Linked DNA regions of Homo sapiens: region 2 is linked to region 1. The links come from fine-mapping of genetic effects on gene expression. Tissue or cell type: transverse colon. Region 1 holds a variant in brackets; the other region holds the start of a gene. All regions are shown on one strand. Distances are from middle to middle.

Region 1 (11,376 bases):
AAAAAAAAGCAGAGCATGATATTCTGCCTCCTGCATTTCCTCGTTTTGTTGACTTCATACTTCACAGTAGTGTTTACTAATACAGCAGAAGCTGAGAATGAAGGAGCCCAGATTCCACCTCCAGCCGTGCACTTCCACAAAATGTTTGGACTTTCATTCACCCTCTAATTCTGTCATTTACCGAGTTTCGAGTTTCCTCAGCTTTCCAAGGAAGTGATTCTGTGCTATCAACTTCACAGTGTAGACATGGGGATAAATCCATACAACTGATGTGACAGTACTTCGGTTTCAGATAACGAACATGAAAGTGCTTTCAAAAGTTTTAAGTGCAAAGTCTGACTCCACCAAAGGAATACAAGCTGGTATAAATAGAAATGTATTACTGTGATTTAGAACATGGACTCAGAGCCAGGCTGTCTGGGTTCATATTCTGGCTTTACCACTTATTAGTTGCAGAATTTAGATAAGTTGTTTAACCCCAGTTTCCTTAACTCTAACTGGGGGCTAATGGAACCTAACTAGGGTATCTTTGCAGTTTAACTGATGTATATGTGAGTTCTTTATAAAGTACCTAGCATATAGAAAATGCTGTCAAAGTTTGAATTATTAGAATTAATAAATTGTGAAAGGTAGAGTCAATACTGAAATATTGATTCAGTATTCATTCAACACTGAAATAAGGACATGGTGAACAAAATAGAAAAAGGCCACACACTTGGTAGTCATAAATGTTACTTTATCAGAAGGTATAGGTAGAAATCATTGCTTTACATAATCTAGGCTTAGACAGTACAATTGTTTAGTTTGGTCCTTCATATGTTTTGATAATAAAGAGAAATGGTAGATGAAACTTCTCTAAAACTCTATTACTGTGCTCTGCATTCAAAACTAATTCTTAGCAACCTGTTATGACCAGGCTTAATACTAAAATGTACAGTTTAGTTAGGACTAGTTCTCTGCATGAAATTTACCTACATTGTCTCCTGGGAAGTGCTTTTATGAACTGTTCACTATTCTTGTAAAATTTACCTTAGTCTTTACTTGACTTTTCACTATTCTTGTAAAATTTACCTTAGCCTTTACTCGACTTTTTTTTCATTTACTGTTGGATTGGTTTTATACTCATTGATAGTACATCAAGTTTTGTCTACCTCCTTAGCCTTTACAAAATTTCATGTTATCTTTGCCCATTAATTCAGCAATTTTCCAAATAAAATTTTGCTAAACTTTTCCAGGAAGTGTTTTCTTTGCCCATTAGTTTAAATTTTTTGCAATATAAGCTTTCCTAAATATTTAGATAGACTAGATTGAAAATAGTCAACAATAACATTTGTCTGTGAATGTATTATGTAATATTTAAAATACTGAGCTTTACTTAAAATATTGGAATTTCCCCTCATGAGACCCTATTGATAAATCAAAAAGTCAAATCACTTACTTGGTAATTTCATCTGGAGCATCAAAATGGCCATCATAATTATAATCAAATATTGGTCCACTAACCACATTTACTCCATTTCTTTCTGTGGCATGTTTTATAAGAAGAACACTGTGGAAGTAGTCCCACATTTCTAAAAATAAAATCATAAAGTGTTTAAAATGTCCACTTCAGTGAAATATGACACTATTTTCTATTATAGACAAGTACATTTAAATAACATGAAATTCTGCCTTAATAATTGCCAGTGATGATTGGGTAATTCTCCAGAATAGGCTTCACAAGCAAAAATAAACAGCCACATTGATGATAGCTTTTTGTTTTTGTAGTTATTGTCTTGAAATTACAGTTAAATATGCCTTCAAATTTCTCCCTAGGGCTGAGTTGCTTATGGGACAGCGAGTGTTAAAAATGATCAGAACACACATGTTGCCTTATTAATTATTACTCTGGGGATAAACATTTACATTTGATTTACTTTTAGTGAGTGGCAGTAATCAAATTAAGGCTTAAAAACAAATTATCAGAATTCTAGCAACAAGTCACTCAAAGTCAAAGTAAGTTGAAAAGAAACTATGTGAGGGATCCTTCCTATACCTATATTTAAACCATTAGAACAAAATGACCCTTAATATCAGGAACAAATTGCAATTAAAAAAATATGTGTTTAGTTTGGAAGTTCAAGGAGTCACTTAACTATTTTAAAATTAATACTCTAAATTCATACTTACTTCTGAATTCTTCATACATAGGTACCAAATTGCTAGTAATTAAAGCATCATATTGGCTATCTGATGTTCTATTGCTGGCTGCAAAACAAATGGATCTTATTAGATCTAGCTATAAGAGAAAATATGACATACTGCACAACAGGCATACTACTATTACATATTAATATAAATTTATTAACAGTCAAAGCACAGAAGTAGTACTTTCTAACAGAGGTTGTTAATAATGCAGGCAGTTTTATGCCTGTAGTGGGTTGAAGTGTGATCCAAAAAAGATACATCCAAGTCCTAACCATTCCTTTCATCCCTGTGAATATAAACTTATTTGGAAATAGGTCTTTGCAGATGTAGCTAGGAGTCTCTAGATGAGATTATCCTGGATTTAGGGTGGACTGTAAATCCAGTGACTAGTGTCTTAATAAGGAGAAGGAGATTTGGGAAGAGGAGAAACACAGGGGAGAAGGTCTTGTGAAGATGGAGGCAGAGGTTTGAGTGATACCAGTACACGCCAAGCAATGCCTGGAGCCACCAGAAGCTGGGAGAGACAAGGAAGGATTTTCCCCTAGAGCCTTCAAAAAGAACATGGCTGTCAACACCTTGACTTTAGCCTTCTGACCTCCAGAACTGTGAGATAATACATTTTTGTTTTAAGTCAACCTTTTTTGGTAATTTGTTCCAGCAGCCCTAGGAAACAAACAGAATGCCAGATATAAATGGGTAGTTATTGGATGTGCACAAAATAATAATGTTATTATAGATAGCTGTCTTCCAAAATAAAATTTTCTGAAGAAAATGAGTTTTTACTTGATAGAGACTGATATGGTTTGGCTGTGTCCCCCCCAATCTCATCTTGAATTGTAGCTCCTATAATTCCCACGTGCTGTGGGAGGGACCCTGTGGGAGGTAATTGAATCATGGGGGCAGGTCTTTCCCATGCCGTTCACGTGATAGTGAATAAGTCTCACGAGATCTGATAGTTTTATAAAGAGGAGTTCCCCTGCACACGCTGTCTCTTGCCTGCAGCCATGTAAGATATCTCTTTGCTCTTCCTTTGTCTTCCCTAATGATTGTGAGGCATCGCCAGGCATGTGGAACTGTGAGTCCATTAAACCCCTTTTCTTTATAAATTATCCAGTCTCAGGTATGCCTTTATTAGCAGTATGAGAACTGACTAATAGAGACTGCTGAAGGGAACACCACAAATCATGGGCTCTGAGGATTTATGGCTGTGCTGTCTAGCACAGTGAGTGTTCAGCGAGGGTGCTCTGGAAGCAGACAGCCCAAGTGGGAACCCCAGCTCCGCTGCTCACAGCTGCACTCCTCGGGCAAAGTGCTGCATCCCTCTGTGCTTCATTTGTCTCATGGCATCTATCTCATAGAATTATTGTGAGGATTAAAAGCTGCAAACCTGTAAATGTTTATTCAAATCCTTTTTCATTTGATTTCATTTTGGTAAGAACACTTAACATGAAATCTACTCTGTTAACAATTTTTTAAGTATATAGTATAGTACTGTTGACTCTACGTACAATACTGTACAGAAGATCCCCAGAGCTTATTTGTCTTGCTTAACTGAAACTTTACGCCCATTAATTAGGAACTCCCCATTTCTCCCTCCCCCAGCCCCCAGCAACCACCATTTCACTCTCTGATTCTATGAATTTGACTATTTTAGATTCTGTAATATATAAGAACATGAATGAAACTTGAGGACATTGAGTGAAATAAGGCAGTCACAGAAACACATATAGTGCACAATTCCACTTATATGAATTTTCTATTATAATACTTTTTATACTTAAACTGTACTTGGATATCTTAACTAATTATTTTTTTTAATTACTATTAAGGCAGAGTCTGGCCATTTTACCCAGGTTGATCTCGAACTCCTGGACTCAAGCGATCCTCCTGCCTCAGCCTCCCGAGTAGGTGGGATTACAGGCATGCACCATCCTGCCTGGGTAACTAATTATTCAATGAGAGGCCAATAAGTAGGCACCAAAAGACAAGAAGAAACAAGTAGCTCTTTTTTCTTCAGATTTCATATGGTGTTTGTAGTTCTCAGACTCCACAAAAAGCCTCTTCTACCTTTTTAACTAAGCCCTGAAAGTTGGAAAGTCAATCAACATAACATTACCTCTGTTTTAGAGGAAAATAAGAACGTGCTAGTAATAGAACTTCTATTTTTAACAAATAATTGGAATTTATACTGGAGAGTTAGAAGAGAGTTTAATTTTATCCTTGATTTTTTTTTTTTAACTGACAAGATCTCACTATGTTGCCCAGTCTGGTCTCAAACTCCTGAGCCTGTGATCTTCCTGCCTCGACCTTCCAAAGTGCTGGGATTATGACCATGAGCCACCGTGTCTGGCCGTATCCTTAATTTTTTGAGACAAGTTGTTTAATTATTAATTTTATTCCTTGTCAGGCAAACATTGATGTATTAACTAATATCTTATGGCCTAACAGATACAATTTTATACACAAATTTCAAATATTTTATTAATAAAATGTTGCAACTTTTTTTTTTTTTTTTGAGACAGAGTCTCACTCTGTCACCCAGGCTGGAGTCAGTGGCTCAATCTCGGCCCACTGCACCTCCACCTACCGGGTTCAAGCCATTCTCATTCCTCAGCCTCCTGAATAGCTGGTATTACAGGTGCGCACCAGCAAACCCAGCTAATTTTTCTATTTTTAGTAGAGACGGGACAGGGTTTCACCATGTTGGCCAGGCTGTTCTCGAACTCCTGATCTCAGGTGATCCACCCACTTTGGCCTCCCAAAGTGCTGGGATTACAGACGTGAGCCACCGCACCCAGCCTGTTGCAAATTTTTAATGTTTATCACAGGGCTTACATAAATTTGGTACCCCCTGATTGTATCTAGATACATAAAATTTATCAGTTAATTTATCCTAACTCAGGAGTTTTAAATTGATAACGCTACTTGCTTTCATTAAACCTTTTTGCCCATTATACATTTCGGAATCTTTAAATTACAAATCTCTAAGAAGGTGAAATTGTTGAAAATCTCATAGGCAAGTTAATAAAAATGACGTTTCCTGTTGCACAGGGAAGTGGCTTGAGTTTTAGGAAAATCACACTAGCTTTGGCAGGTTCCCAAGAGAGATTCTTTCTGAAAACAACAACAACAACAACAACAAAAACTTAAATTTCATTTGGCTACTTCACCTGCAGTTTAAAACTGTTAGCCCTACAGCATGAGCGACAGGCCAAAATTCCAGCCTGATTTCTTTTTTTATTTTATTTTATTTTACTAGGTGACCTTCTCTGTATCATTCCTATTTTAGTACATGTTCTGCCAAAGCGAGCACCCAGCCTGATTTCTTTTCACGGGCACAGCTGTATTCTCCAGGTGGACCTTAGCTTGGGCAGGAGTCAGAAGAAATGGGTTTTTAGATGTTTGTGTCCTTCTGCAAAGAATCTCCAGTTTTAAAATTAAACTTAAACCTGCCGAACTCTCTAAACATCTGGGCCAGATGAGAGCTGCTGTGTGGGTCCCACTGCAAAATGTCTTAGTCTTTATTACAGCCGCTGTGCTGCTCTGGCCAGCCACAACCACTGGAAGCCTCTCAGGCAGCTAGCTTACCCAAGCAGGTAGTTTTGGTGGGGAGTATATGTTTAAGGCACATGCCCACATCCAGCTGATGAGAGCTTTCTAAGCTACTGCTCTAAAAAAGAGTTCTACTAACCAGGAGGATAGAGGAAGCCGTGGGTGATATTCTTGTCTGCTAAATAGAAGGAACATTTTTGGCTCTCAGAAGGAGGAACCCTGACATCAGCCCGCAGACAGTCTGGGACAGTGGGAGGCAGAGGCGATGTGTCTCCCTGTTCAAAGAGAGAGAGAAAAAAATTACGCCCACAATTGCGGCTCACCCATTGCCTTATATGGTTTGTCACTTCCCTAGAATGTTTTTCATTTAAGCTTTTCCTATTTTCTTAGTGAATCAGGTCTACGCAAGCAATGAGAATGGATGTCTTCAGCAGTGTTTTCTTCTGTGGTTCCCTTCTGGTTAAGGACATCGGGAGGGCAAATCAAATACACCTTGGAAAAAAATATTTGCACAGTGAAACCTGAATTGAGAGCAGAGGAATAATGGGAACTATTCCTAAAAACTAAAATCCTTTTCAAGATCTAACTTTTATGTGGTGATGTATATTGTACTTTTAAATAAAAATTGAAAGTAAAATGTATTTACTTTTAAAATATTGATATAAACTAAGTATTGATATATTATTCTTCAGCTGTTCAAGAACTTTTTATCAACCTAAGATTAATTCAAAGAAGGTGTAGTTGTCTAAACAAATTAGTTTTGAATATAAATAAATTTACAGCCATGCTTCATTCATCATGAAATATAAGAATTTTTAAAATAATTTCTTAGGCCAGGCCGGGCTCAGTGGCTCATGCTTGTAATCCCAGCACTTTGAGAGGCCGAGGCAGGCAGATCACGAGGTCAGCAGTTCAAGACCAGCCTAGCCAACATGGTGAA[C/AC]CCCGTCTCTACTAAAAATACATCAATTAGCCAGGTATGGTGGCGGGCACCTGTAATCCCAGCTACTCTGGAGGCTGAGGCAGGAGAATCGCTTGAACCGGGAGGCGGAGGTGAGCTGAGACTGGGCCATTGCACTCCAGCTTGGGTGACAGAGTGAGACTCCATCTGAAAATAATAATAATAATAATAATAATAATAATAATAATAATAATGTCTTAGGCCAGGCTTGGTGGCTCATGCCAGTAGTCCCAGCACTTTAGAAGGTTGAGGCGGGTGGATCACTGGAGGTCAAGAGTCCGAGGTTCAACATAGTGAAACCCCATCTCTACTAAAAATACAAAAATCAGCCAGGTGTGGTGGTGGGTGCCTGTAATCCCAGCTACTCGGGAGGCTGAGGCATGAGAATTGCTTGAACCTGGGAGGTGGAGGTTGCAGTCAGCTGAGATCGTGCCACTGCACTCCAGCCTGGGCAACGGAGAGAGACTCCGTCTTAAAAAATAATAATAATTTCTTTGTAGCCCTATTTAAAGACTAGTACAATAATTTATTTACCAAGAGGACATCCTGTAAATGTGCTGCCTAACTCGAGTATTTAAGGTAATACTATATTATGTGGTCATCATATTTTGATTAGCATATAATCATGGGTAAGTGAACATTTTGCTATTTGTTTATTTTTCTCAGACATTTTGATTTGTATGCTCTCTACTGCCCATAATGGATATCTTTCTTAATAAAATTTGAAATAATTTATAAAAAAATGAAGATTAAGTTAAATTAGGATGACCTTCCTTTATTCACTGCATTGTGCTGAAAGCAAAATTAGCTATGTTGTCTGAAACCTCTGAGTTCAATTCACAAAGGAAGAGGCAACATACACTGTATGCTGTCTTTGTAGCCAGGAGAGCACCATGCTGAGGTATAGAACAAGTAGGAGCTGAAGATGAGAAAAGTCCAGAAAAAGCAAAGCAGAGACTGTACTCCCTAACATACTACAAAGCTCCAGCTAGAAAACTTCTCAAATTGATTAAACACATACATTTATCTTGCTCCCTTCTAAAATTCCATTAAGAAGACAGTAATAATGAAAACACACAAGAGATGACAGGGAACATTCAGAAGCTGGAAATCAGATAAATAATAACGTGATTTAGTAGACCAGTAAACACTGACTACCAAGAGCTTATGTTTGGGAAAAGCACCAAGGAAGTCCTACTGTAGAACCCCAGAAGGGTAGAACTTGGAGTCCTAAAGACAGGAGTTCGCATAAGGCTGGAAATAGAGGATAGATTGAAAAAGTCTGCAAAAAGGGATAGACAGTATGTTTACTCTCTGGAGAGTTTAAACCAGAGGGATGATCAGACTAAAAGACACAAGGCACAGCCAAGAGCAGGTGCACCATACTGAAAGAAATGAGATTAAACAAAACTCTATTGCTGAATGATAAGATTCCCCAATCTCATTGCCCATTTAGCCTGAAAATTGTATATGCTGAGTCAGATTAGAAGTATCCTCTCTTTGGAAAACAACCAGCCTGAAAAGAAACTAGATACTGTCAGTTTGGAGTCCTCAACAAAATGGCTGGTTCTCTTCCTGATCAACCTATAGTGAAGCTTATAGACTGGAAAGACCCAGCCATATAGTTTAGTGCCTAACTCTTAAAATAGAAGCTGACAGCCAAGGACCACTAGACACTGGGGAATAAGGGAGAAGAAAAAGAGACAATGCAGAAGCCAGAAGAAAACTCTTTTCTCAGAGAGCTGAGAGTATATATGGCATCCATAAAGAAGGAACAGAGGCAATGTTTAAAAAGAGAAAAGGTAACAGAAAGAGCTCTTGGGATTTCAAAATACGACAGCCAAAAGAAAACACTCAATAAGATCTAGAGGATGAAGTTGCAGACGTGACTCAAAAGGTGGAATTAAAGACAAAGAGATGGGAAAAATAGGAAAAATTCAAACACATTAGAGAATCAGCCCAGGAAGTCTAATTTTTTTTTTTTTTTTTTGAGATGGAGTCTCACTATCTGGCCCAGGCTGGAGTGCAATGGCACAATCTTGGCTCACTGCTACCTCTGCCTCCTGGGTTCAACTGATTCTCCTGCCTCAGCTTCCCAAGTAGCTGGGATTACAGGCATGCGCCACCACGCCCAGCTAATTTTTGTATTTTTAGTAGAAACAGGGTTTTGCCATGTTGGCCAGGCTGGTCTCAAACGCCTGACCTCAGGTGATCCATCCACTCAGCGTCCCAAAGTGCTGGGATTACAGGCGTGAGCCACTGCGCTTGACCTGTCTTACTAATTTTGAAGAAAAATTATTTCTAAAATTCTGAAACCAGCTAAAACACCAATTAAGTGTATAGGCAGAGTAAAAACATGTTGAGACACAAAAACTCTCAAGAATGTATCTTCCCCTTTTTCTTTCTCAGGAAGCTCCTGAGTGATATAGTCCACCAAAACAAGAAGTAAACCAAGAAATACGAAGACGTTTGTGCTAAATGTGTTGGATGAGTTCTCACCATTTATTTCACTCTCCTTCAGGTGGCAGAGTCTGGAAAGCTAAAAGCATTTGTTTATATTCTTTCAAAAACATATCATAGTATACAGTTCTGAGTGACCAGGTTTCTCCACTTGGTATAAGGGCTACGTAAGTATGTTGTAAAATTAGAAAATAAGGAATGGTGACTGCTGACCAAGTTGGCCCCATAGACCGCTGGTATATTGTGAGTTTGATATTTCCTAACACACATCTTTATCGTTGTACTCAAACATTTCACATTAGTAAGTTTTACTTGAAGAAATATACAGTATATAAATGTAGCCCTAAATGCATTTTCCATAATGTAAGGAAATTGAGATGCTTATATTTAACAGTTAAAATTATAAAAATGTTAACGAAGAAAGTTTATTGTAATTTTTAATGAGGCTGTGGCTGTAAAAGTTGTGCTTAAACAACTTAGTTGGTCAAAATATTTACCATGTTCTCAAAGTAGCTTAGACTTTGTGCTGGGGGAAATGAACTGGGATAGCTTCAGCCAGAAAGTACTAAAAAAAAAAAGTCACATTTTCTGCTAACCGAAAATCTTGAGATTTATTTCTTACATACCAAACTTGAACCCTCAAATAAAAGTGCATCAGTACTAGGAATGAGGATGTGGCCTCCTTTATCCAGGCGAGATTATGCAATAGGCAGCCCATTAGAAGGATGGAGGGGAGGTACAGGAAGGTCCTTTCTATAATAAAAAAGGCTTTAGTGAACCACCACCACCACCACCCCGCCTCCAACACATAAACAGCTTCAATCCTGCCATCCTATCAGAGTTCCCTGGAATTTTTGAAGCAACGGAATAGAAAGTCAGGAAAGCAATAAATATAATTCAGACACTCAGATAAAATATGAACTTTTTAGCTCTCAAAATCTTACTGGAGAAGTAAATGATGAGTATAGACAGGAACGTGAGCTGCTTGTACTTTTAGTCTGGCATTGAAACAAAGTAGAACCTGAACAGAGGATAAAATTATTTCTATTGAAGTTACAGATGCTTCTTACCTGTAGGCTGAATGTACAAGCTAAAACCTACTTGTTTGAAGATTAGATAGTTACAATTTTGCCTTACGGTAAGGATAATAACTATGTATGTTTTTAATTATTTGGTTGTATGATTTATTTTCTACAGGGAAAAATAATTCTTTCATAGTTCAAAAATGTTTGCAACACACAATAATGCCCCTGTTTCAAAGACTCACAAAATAATCTTTAGAAACAAGAAAAAAGGCTTTTTAACATGGAATGATATGTGTGTAGATTGACAGATAGATAGACATATAGCTATAGATAGGTAAATAGAGCGAGAGATACATAGATACATAGGGAGACAGAGAGGCATTTTTCAAAGTACACTAGATTTCTACTCTGAAAAGTTATTTGATTTCATATTAAATTCTGAAATACCTATTTTAAACAGTAATCACAATTCTTGCTCTTATTTTCAATTTATCACCTAGCAACAGGAACACTAGTGCATATCTTCCTTCTGAACAGGCCCAGAAGCAAAATCTATGTATGGTCTGACTAACCTTAATGGTTTTGAATCAGCTGTTCTACGACCATGATTTCAAATCACAACTACTTCCCCAGAACTCTTCTGAGATACAACAAAAATTACAAAACCCACCAAAACCACAGAAAAACAAAAGCTCTATAAATCTTAAAGGCTAAGACCAATTGGGTCCATGTTCCAAAAAGTGCTTATTTAAGCCTGATTTTTTGAAACACAGAGCTGATTTACAACATTTTTATGTGAATCCCAAAACATCCTTGTATGTAATTTTCTTGAACCACAACACACTAACAGAGTAATTTCTGAATTAGAAAGCAGAAAATTGCTAGAATTCCATCCTGTCACAGGGAAGGAGAAATACACAAGTACTTCTGTGGGATCAGTGAAAGGACAGGAACTTTTGGTAACAAGGAAGCTAGTTTTAAAACAATAACAAAGAAGAATTGTATTAAACTCCTAGTCTGAGCCCACTTAGAATCTCTCCGCCTTTGGTTTCCGCCAAAGCTCATAAAAATTCAAGAATGCAAGACAGCAGGGGAAAAGTACTAAAAACATAAACATTCCCTTTAATGCCACACAACCCCTCATACCTGGAATTTTCAAAATAGAAAATTAAATAATAGGACTGACCCTGAGTA
Region 2 (11,197 bases), 98 kb after region 1:
CAAAAAAAAAAAAAAAAAAAAAAAACCAGGGTGGAGAAAGGTAAGAGAAAAACACTGGAATGATAATGAGTCTCAAATGAGCAGGGTGAAAAAGTAAAGTCCAGAAAGTACAGTGAGCAATGCCAACCTCAGATGTGGACTCCCGATAAGTAGAGTGGGGAAAGGGAGATGTCTAGAAGCAGAATGCTGCATGGAGGACAGAGGAGGCTTGGGATGGGAGATACATTTTAATGAATTAAGGCCAGAAGAGAGAAGAAATAAGGGAATGTTCTGAGAAAAGGCTGAGGGGTATACCTTGCTTTTCCAGTTTCCTGAGTCCAAGCCCCAGGCCTAATCCAAGTGACATGATCACCAGCAAAGCAAGAAGAACCTATTGCAAAAAGGAAAAAGTAACTTTTATAATTTTTTAAAAAATTACAAAGATACAAATAACCACCCTTTCTCAGTATTCTCTCTAAGTACCTGCAGCGTACTAGTTATGCCAGATACCAGATCCAACAATGATCTAGTATCTGGCCTAACTGGAGGTATAGTATTTTATTTAATGCTTGAAATTAAGAAAGAATATTTTGGCAGAATTTAAAGATACCATTTATTACAGATCTTCAAATTCAAACACATTTACCATTCAAATGCAATGAACTTAACTGCAAATTGAGTTAAAGTTAAGAATTAAAACCATAAAACCATTTTTCTGGGCCATTTTTTTTAAACCAGGCACCCATTTGTGATCATTTATTGAAAAGAATTGCAGAACTGTTAAATCCTTAACTGCCTCATTCTAAGGGAGCAGGGCTTTTTTTCCTACTCTATCACAGGATGATAATAATATTTAACATACGTAAAAATACATTGTCCAAATAGTTAACTAGCAAATAATCTGTTTTGGTCTTCCACTCATACAAACCACTTAGGATAATTTGGAAACTGCCTGACCAAAGATTGTTTATGTCATTCATTATCGCTCTGCTGACAAAGCCCTTTGGTGTAACGAACTTTATGCTATGATTAGATTAAACTATGATATAATTAAAAAGAATTCTTCTAGCTGCCCTCTTTCCTCTTCCATGAAGTCCAGAGATAAGCATGCTGGATGACAGGGCTTGAATACTGTATGTTGTCATAAAGAATGGCAGAAAGACACGTAATCAAATTACTTAGGAAAGTATTTTACAATAACCTTTGTTATAGTTTCAGACACAAAAAATAACTTTCACAAAAGAAAAAAACATCAGATTTTGCTTAGATAATTAAGAAGTACATAAATTATTTTTTTGAGGATTGTTTTCATTCTGAAAGTCAACTGGAAAATTAACACATCTAATGTTTACAATGGAAGTGAATTCAACAATTGGGAAGCTATGTTACAATACTAAGAAAACAATTCTTATATGAAGTCTCAAAGTTAGCTCAAGGGTCAGTGACCTTTCAGTACATGTTCATTCAGTGGAGAGGATGGAGAGGAAAAAATGAACATAAGCATTTACTAAATAACACCATTAGCAGTTCCTCCCTTGTCATGGTGCTTAGAAGACACAGTCGACTGAAACTAGAGTGACTACAAAGCAGAAAAACAACGTTGGGGAACTCCTTCTGGTAAACCTCACACATCATAGACTTACAAATTAACATATTTTGGTTTACACCTTATCTGTGGTACTTTTGCTGTTCAAACTTGCTAGAAAAATCAACAACATCTAGCTGTTCTTAAGATGCTTTAAAACTTCACAATATTTAATGTTAGAATCTGTTTCTTCATAATTTTTGTATTTGTTCCATATATTTGTGGCTTGTTTTCTACATTATTCTGTGAGCTCCTTGAGAGTAAAAGGCTTATTTATTTATTATTATTATTATTATTTAGAGTTGGAGGTCTCACTATGTTGACCAGGCTGGTATGGAACTCCTGGCCTCAAGAGCTCCTCTTATCTCGGCCTCCTAAAGTGCTGGGATTATAGGCACTAGCCACTGTGCCCCGCCTAAGAAGTTTATTTTTAAGCCTTTATAATCATTTACTATAAATATGTAATTCCAAAAAAGCTTCTTGATATTGGGGTGCACATGTATCTTAAACTATGTTACACTGTGCACAAAGTGGGGAGAATACTCTGAACATCAAAAACTGCTGAGAGCACATCATTTGGCTTTAACTGGGCTAAACAAAGAGTGCTAGAAACACAGCAGATACCTTCAAAATGTTTAAGTGAAACTTTAGTAAAAGTTTGAAGACATCAGGGTACTTTTGAAACAATGATTTAAAAATATTGAACTTCATTATATATACTCAAAAACCACTAGAGAGATACAAAGAAGGGAAATTAATGATGCACAAATTTTGCTGTGGAAGATTTTATAATTTCCTGAATTGATAAGCTAGGATAAATATAATAAACATGCTTGAAGTCCCAGCTACTCGGGAGGCTGAGATGGGAAGATCATTTGAGCCAAAGTTGGAGCCTGAGTTGCTGCAGCAAGCCATGATCATGCCACTGTCTTCCAGCCTGGGCAACAGAGCGAGAACATGTCTCCAAAAAAAAGAGAGAGAGAAAAAAAAAAAAATATATATATATATATATATTAGCATAAGAGCTATAAAGAGCACTCTGAAATTGAAATTCTCAGAAGGATAAAGAATAAATGGAATATATTGAGGATTTACTTTGTTACTAGGCTTAATACTTACACACATTGTTTTACATTATTTTATTTACTTCTTGAAACAATTCTGGAGAGACAGAGAATAGCGGTGACCTTAAAATATGGGATATAGGGAAAAGCTGCGGCAAGATTGGTGTGAAAAAATAATGCAATTAGTTTTGGTGTAAGGTACTGAGTCAGGAGTCAGGAAGCAGGCATTTGAAACAGGCTAGTGCACTGGGGCACACACATAGTCCCCAGCTACTCAAGAGGCTGAATGAGAGGATCACTTGAGCCCAGGGTTCAAGACCAGCCTGGGCAACATAGCGAGACCCAGTCTCTAAAAATACACATATTACCAAAATAATAAAATTAAAAAAAAAAAGAAATTGTGTGACAGAGGCTGGGCAAAAAGTCAGAGCTGGTGGATTACTTGGAATTCTTGGCTGAGGAAAACACTAGAGGCCAGGTGCAGTGGTTCATGCCTGTAGTCCCAGCACTTTGGGAGGCCGAGGCAGGTAGATCACTTGATCCAGGAGTTTGAGACCAGCCTGGGCAACATGGTGAAACCCAGTCTCTACAAAAAAAAGAAAAGAAAGAAAAAAACTCACAAAAACTTAGCTGAGCCTTGTGGCATGTGCCTGTGGTCCAAGCTACTCAGGAGGCTGAGGCAGGAGGATCACTTGAGCCTGGGAAACAGAGGTTGTGGTGAGGTGAGATCCCAAAGGAGAGAGACCCTGTCTCAAAAATAAAATTAAAATTAAAAAGACTATTAGAGAACATGAGATTTCTTAAGAGATCTTAGATAGGGTTTAGTGAAGCTTGTGTTGTAATTTTCATGAGAATAAAGATAAATTGTTGGCTAAGAATGCAGATAAGGAAAAAAGTCATAAAATGAAAATGTCAATGTCATGGTAGAAGCAAGGGGAGAGAATAATTCAGAATGAGAAAGTACCAGGAAGTTATTGTTGTTATGAACACTCAAGTGGATGAAGGACGAGGAGGACTGACTTTTGAGTCAGGGACTCAGTACAGTAGAAACAAAGCCAGAGCACAAAGGAATGGTTGGGGGCTGAGAAAACTGAAGCAATGAAATGAGCCCTCTTTACCCCAAAAGTTTGATGGCAAAGGGAAAAGAGAGAGTAATAAAATCAAGGAAATGGATAAGCGTATTTCTGGAGTAAAAAGAAAAAGAAAAAAATTTAAAATTAAAAAAAAGAAAAAAGAAAATAAAATCAAGGAAAATTTATTTGGGGGGTGAGGGGGGGTGGCAGATCTTACCACATGAAATGACAAGAGAGAGAAAATAGGCAAAAGAGACTATCTCTAGGAGTGAAGTAAAATAGGATACAATTGTTGGTTCAGCAAATAATAGGGTACAATGATTTTAATTTCTCACTTTCTTGTCTTAAAATACTCATGCAATAAAAAAGTGATTGAGAGGTAGTTATAATCATGCAAAAAATCAGCGCCACAAAGCGTTCTGTCATGGATTCCAACTTTTGAGTTTAACGTAATGTTAACTTGTTGTTACTCAAATTTCTTACGTGTAAAATATGATTTAAGATATTAATTTGCATTAGAGTTTTCATAAGGGATAATACTGAATACAGTTACTTAAAAGTTTACATTTTAATAGCAACACAAAGAAATGTAAATGGGAAATCATATACTTTTAACATTTGTCACAAAACTAGAAAGACTAAAAATAAGAATTGTACTTACAATGCAAGCTATTTTATATTTCTTAAGAGTGTTCTTCTTAACAGGTTGTTCCGTTGCTAAAGTCAACGTAGATTCCATTGTCCTGGTAGCTGCATAGACCTGTTTTATCAGAATAAATTAGTGCTCCTTCTTTAGTCTAGTCTGGCAAAGAGAAACTGTATGAGTTACATAGCTGTGCCTGACTTTTAACTGTTTAGGAAGATCACAGCTCTTCAGTGATTGGGCAATCTGGAGAGAGGAAAAAATGTTGTAATAAGAATCGTGTGAAAAGATTAAAGTTCATTTCTAGTATATTGCAGACAACTGCTCCTTTTTTCCTTATAACTTTTACTAAATACTAGTCAAGACATATATAACAAGAATAACACAATCATCAAATTTTAATGCAATCCGATCTTCTGTTTTCTTTAAAAATAACCCCGAACAAAAAGCCTTGTCACAGAAATTTCAGACTTTCCGCTTTTCTATAAACTTCATAGCAGCTGAAAATCAACATAGCAAAACATGTGCTTTGACAACAGTAGAAATTCTGAAACTCTGCTGAACCAATATAAAGTACTTAGTTCTGTGATAATTATATCTTGCTTTTTACAGTGTTCACAATTTGACAAGTTTTTATACACATTAGCTCAAGTCAAACTTAAAAATATCCCTTATAAACATTTTATTCTTGTTTTTAGATGAGCAAATTAAGGCTCTGATTATTTAAATTAAGTTATTATATATGACTTATTGCTCAAAATTATTTACTAGGTGCCAGAACTAGAACTGATACCCAAGACTTCTAACTCCCCAAATCCAAGCAATTTTCACTAATCAATTTAAATTCACTATTTTCTTATGTATCTAGACTGGTGCATCCTAGCATGTGTACTCCATGCTGAAAAGGGGTTACAGTTTGGTGATGAAAGAAGCTAAATTAATAATAGTGTTGGTCAAAGAGAATTTTAGCAAATAGTGGATGCTAAACTCTTCTAGTTTCAGTGACCCTAAGGCAGTGATTCTCAAAGTTTGGTTCCATGGAACATGAGTTCTATGACAACCCCCTTGGTTAAATAAAGCTTGAATACTCCTCTAATGAAAAGATTATCAAAATCCTGTAGACTGCAGTACACCCTTTGGAAAACACTACTCTAACTAACTAAACTCTTCCAACCCTAAAAGCAGTGAGAAAAAAAATATGAAAAGAATGTATTCTAATATAAATACAATGACTGCATCACTACTCTAACTAAACATGTCTAAATCATAGAATTTAGACACTATTTCTGAAAATCAGGGGGAAGAGGATTGCTTGAGTCCAGGAATTTGAGACCAGCCGGGGCAACATAGGGAGACTCTGTCTCTATAACAACAACAACAAAAATTAGCCAGGCATGGTGGTGCATGCCAATAGTCCCAGCTACTGGAGAGGTTGAGGTGTGAGGATCCCTTGAGGCCAGAGTTTGAGGCTGCAGTGAGCCATGACAGATACACAAACAAGCAGAGACAGATTTCAGACAAAGACAAGAGAGGGGGTGCACTCGGGCAGAACAGACTCAAAACCCACTCAAAACCTGATCTTAACCAAATGCAAAGCAGGTGTATAAGCGAGCCCTATTGCTTCCCTGGCAGTACCAGGCAAATGGCTTAACAAGCCCAGATGGGAAAATAATAGGCTCCTGGCATAAATCTGGTTTTACCCTTTGAGCGCGTCCACCCCGATCTCCGTTATTCCCCAGTAGGGAGAGGGACGTGTGGTTTTGCACATGGGATAGCCCTGGGGAGAGTCTCCAGGAAAACCTCACCCGGCAGCTGCTGGGAATCTCCCGAAGACTGTCTTGTCACAAGGAGTGTGAGTATTCCTTCGTTATCTTGTCATGCTTCAAGGCCCAGGAAGGCCTGGGAAAGAGTCTTGGTGGGCCTTTGTTACTTGTTCTGGACTTTGTGTAAGGGCACTGGCTCTCTCAGCCTTTAATATTTAACCTAACCATTCAGTCAGTGCTGAAACAGTTATTATGGAGGCCTGCCTGTTTGTGAGACCTGGCCTGCCACATGATCACCCCACTGCACTCCAGCCTGGGCAACAAGAGTGAGATCCTGTCTCAAAAGTATAAAAAAATGAAAAAATAAAAATAAATAAAATATAAATCTGCAGCATGAGAGCCACGTTTCCTTTTCTGGCGTTATGGGTTTGTGCTCATCTTTTCCATCACTCCCTTGGTCCAGTATACCCCCACTTCACCAATTCCACCTATATCCCTAACCAGCAAAAGTATCAGCATTAGTTGTTGGTACAGAAGGAATTCATTTTAGAACTAGAAGATGCCATAAAGACAACCAAATCCAGGTTCTTGCAGATTTCTTTCCAGGAATCACATGGAGTATTATGTGCTTAAAAACCAGAATAAAAAAAAATTTGAATAATTTGGGCACCTGACTCTCCACACTGGATGAACTTAGAAGTACTCAGAGAAGTATTTTTTTTTAAGTTTTTATTTTTCTAATTCTGAAGCCCAGGCTCCACTTCAGTTTAATGATCTTCTGTAGTTTTGGCTAAGGCAGCAGTATTTTTAAAATATCCCGGCCGGGAGTGGTGGCTCACACCTGTAATCCCAGCACTTTGAAAGGCTTGGAAGGCTGAGACGGGCGGATTACCTGAGTCAGGAGTTCCAGACCAGCCTAGTCAACATGGTGAAACTCCATGTCTACTAAAAATACAAAAATTAGCCAGGCATGGTGGCTCACACCTATAACCCCAGAATTTAGAAGGCTGAGACAGGTGGATCACCTGGGGTCAGGAGTTTGAGACCAGCCTGGCCAACATGGTGAATCCCCATCTCTACTAAAAATACAAAAATTAGCTGGCCATGGTGGCAGGTGCCTCTAATCTCAGGTACTTGGGAGGCCGAAGCTTGAGAATCGCTTGCGCCTGGGAGGCAGAGGTTGTGGTGATCCAAGATCATGCCACTGCATTCCAGCCTGGGCAACAAAGTGAGACTGTCTCAAAATAAACAAACAAACAAACAAACAAATAAATAAATAAATATCCCTCTTAGTGATTTGATATGCAGCCCAGAGCAGTCTAAACACTTTACATTCAAATTCTTTTCTGCAAACATCCTGTCATTATTCTAATCAGACTTTTGGATTTTACAGATAAGGTCGGAGGACCACCAAAGGGACTTGGTCACTTACGCACAATTCTTTTAGTGATATCTCAGAAGTGAAATACCACCAGGTTCCTTCTTCAAAGTATTTTGCTGTTGAATCATTATGATTTTTTAAAAACAAAGACCAAACCTATGTCATAATTTGTCTCAAATTTAGGGGATTCCTAGGATCTATGGCTTTTATCTAATCATTTGTTATGTGCCTTCCATTTTTATGGGTTTCTGGGTTCTGATTGCCTACTTGCACTCATAGCAGTGCACTGACTCTGCCTTACCTCTAGTTGCTGGGGATCCTACTTTTCCTTCCTGCTGTGATGATTGGCTGTGTGTGTCAATTTGGCTAGGCCATATTATCCTGTTATTTAATCAGACGCTAATCTAGGGTGATGTTGTGATATTTTGTAGATATGGTAACAACTATAATTAATTGACTTTAAAAAAGGAAATTGTCTTCAATAATGTGAGAGCGCGCCTCATCCAATCAGTTGAAGTCCTTACGAGCAAAAACAGGCTTACCAGAGAAAAAATTCACTCCTAAAACAGCAGCATTAGCCTGAGTTGCCGGCCTGCCCGGTCCTACATATTTTGGACATTCCCCACTGCCACAATCAGGTGAGCCTGGGCTTCAGAATTAGAAAAATTAAAAATTAGTGAGGTATTCCCCCAACTTCATGAATTCCACCTATAGGCCTAACCAGCGAAAGCATCAGCATTAGTTGTTGAGCTTAACCTCATTCTTTCAATGTAGGCAAAAGTCCAATGAACTATCCATTGTGCCACAGAGCCTGCTCTTAACCTGGTTCTGACACTCCAATTGCCCTTTCAGATGCTTCTTCCTGGTATTCTCCAAAATGTAACTTGATTCTATACCAGTTTTGTATACCAAGTATATTAGTCCGTTTCCGCAGTGCTATAAAGAACTACCTGAGACTGGGTGATTTATAAAGAAAAGAGCTTCAATTGACTCACAGTTCCACATGGCTGGGGAGGCCTCAGGAAACTTACAATCATGGTGGAAAGCAAAGGAGAAGTAAGAACCTTCTTCACGTGGTGGCGGGAGAAAGAAGAGAATGTGTGCATAGGAGGTACCGTCAAACACTTATAAAACCATCAGATCTCGTGAAAATTCACTATTATGAGAACAGTATGGGGGATACCACCCCCAGAATCCAATCACTTCCCTCCCTCAACATGTGGAGACTACAATTCAAGATGAGATTTGGGTGGGGACACAAAGCCTAACCATATCACCAACATACTACTGACTCTTACTCTGTATCTTTACTAAGTGATTCCTTATGTTCTACACTGCCAGAATTTCACTTCTCTCTTCCTTCATCCTCATCCCTCATCCCTTTTCTCTTTTTTTAATTAAAAAAATTGTGGGTACATAGTGAGTATATCCCTATCCCCTTTCAACCCTGAAAAACACACAAAAAAATCCTAGGTGGGGAAGTCAGGGGGCCTCTGATAAAGGCTTAGCTTGTAAGTGACTGTCTGTGTTACAAATTAAGTGATTCTGGACATTGAATTCTTCATTTTTAAGAATTATCAGAGATTATTAGATTATCTCTAAGTCACTAAATTTTGGATATGATAATAGGGACACATCCTAGTCCTTCAGGTCCTAAGATGAATAAACCTCAAGGAATCTACCTATGTATAATACAAGTAGGTATAGTGAAGATGGTTGGCATTGCCAAGTTGCTAGCCATATTTTTGGCTATAACAATTTCTCTAACTGAACTCTAAACCCCAACCTCTTTTGAGTCTTTCAAGTTCTAGAAACTTATTCCTGGCTGGATGCAGTGGCTCACACCTGTAATCCCAGCACTTTGGGAGGCTGAGGCAGGAGGATCACTTATGTCAGTTTAAGACCCACCAGGGCAACATAGTGAGACCCTGTCTCTACAAAAAATGAAAAATAAAAAATTATCCAGGAGTTATGGTGCATGCCTGTAGTCCTAGCTACTCGGGAGGCTGAGGTGGGAGAATATGGGGAGGATTGCTTGAGCCCAGGAGTTTGGGGCTGTAGTGAGCTATGATGGCACCACTGCATTCCAGCATGAGCAGCAGAGTAAGACCATCATCTCAAAAAAGAAAGAAAAAAAGAAAGAAAGAAACTTAACAGTTCACCTGATCAATAGACACAAGCCAAAACCACACCTTCCATGCAAGTTAGACTTTGGAATAGACTGCCTGTGTCACTTAAATCTGAACCTACACTTTCTAAGTTAACTGGACCTTGAAAGTTTGCCTATTCTTTTCTTCTTTAACTTTAGAACAATCTGTACCTTCTCTTCTTTTCTTCTTCAACTTCAGAACAACCTGTACCTTCTTGGTTCTGAAACTTTACTCTGAACATTAAAATGTTCAGAGTAATTTGTAAGTAAGTTAATGGCTTAGAACGCTTGCATTCTGAGAGGCAGCTACCATTACATCACCCATCAATGTAAACCGTAAACATTCCTCATGTTACAGAAGGTCTCAGTGTCCACAGAATTCTGGCAACAAATGGGTTGTTGTTGTCTCAGAAAAGCCCTAGGGGCCTGCCAACATCAACTTCTTTGTCTCAGGAACCTGCCCTTCCTGGTTCCAGTGCTAGATCTTGGGTGATAGGTGGACAAGCTAGACTGGGAGAGCCCAGAGAAACTAATCGCACTGAGGAGGGTGGTAGAGGTGAGGCGGATGCTAGGCTCAGGTCCAACAGCAAAAGGAAGAAGGAGTCCACAAAGGAAGGGAGACCTCACATAATAACATAATGCCAGAGATAGATGGGCAGGTGACTAACTTCAGGGAGGGCCAGTCATGAGGAAAAAGCAGAAAAACCTACAAGGAGATTGACAAGCACACAAAGCAATCAGAAAGCTAACCAGGTAGGCAGTTGGTATAGGAAGGACAGAAGCTAATCCTCAGCAAGTGGAGATCCAACACTGAAGCTGAATTGAGAACTGGCTGTCTTGGTGAGACTGATGTCAGCAGTGCCAAACCAGGTCTGAGAGGCAATGGTACACACCAGGAGACAAAGCAGACACCCAGCATGGAATAGAGAGCCCAGCTCTAGTCCTCCAAACAATGACTATGGCAAAGTAGAATCAATGGTCACAGTTTGATACCGCTGTTTGCCAGTACCTATGTGTGTGAAAAGATATTTTCTGACTAAATAAGTAAAAATCTCATTACTGATCAGCACAATGAACATCTATAATCAATTTGGAGATGAGAAACCTGATGTGATGACTCCTGTGGTGTAGCAATTGTTTTCTACTGAACGATCAGCATTCCTAAGGTTGTCTCTGGTTCATGGAAGACTGTTTCTCTTACTTTGTCTCAAGTACAGAAATATTCCCTAGTAGTGTTAGATTTCTAGGAGCCCTTTCTTGTTCATTTTGAAACTCAGAAATCTTTGGATTTCCAAACATTTTCCAGGTTTTCATAGGCTCTTCTCATTTTTAGTGTACTCATGAGGGCCTCATTTATGACTCAAATTCTAGAGATGTCTCCAGAAGAGACATTATAAAACAACCATGCTGCCTGGGCTCTCCGAGGTAGAGCTCAGTGTCACAGTGCTCCCACGGTGCCCATCCATGAAGCAGAAGGTACAGGCCACGTACTGTTTACATCTCTGAAACCTGGCATGAACCAAGTTATTTCCCCAAACCTTTAAACTCCTCTCTGCCGTG

Evidence for each region. PIP is the estimated chance that this variant, and not a neighbour inherited with it, causes the effect.
Region 2: ENPP3 starts here. The variant in region 1 is the best candidate, but not a certain one, in a credible set for the expression of ENPP3 in transverse colon (GTEx, PIP 0.75).

The regions. Positions count from the first base shown.
Region 1 is chr6:131,728,226-131,739,601 of GRCh38, reverse strand. ENPP3 (ectonucleotide pyrophosphatase/phosphodiesterase 3) reads right to left here. Exons shown (of 25, transcript NM_005021.5): 21 at 5,879-6,014; 22 at 2,170-2,247; 23 at 1,439-1,571. Among named protein-coding and RNA genes, the nearest start is that of CTAGE9, 23 kb to the right of the region's middle. The variant C/AC (reference allele first, on the strand shown) is at 6,680.
Region 2 is chr6:131,630,628-131,641,824 of GRCh38, reverse strand. ENPP3 (ectonucleotide pyrophosphatase/phosphodiesterase 3) reads right to left here and starts at 4,523. Exons shown (of 25, transcript NM_005021.5): 1 at 4,363-4,523; 2 at 295-370. The coding sequence starts at 4,440. RefSeq lists a silencer at 5,795-5,884.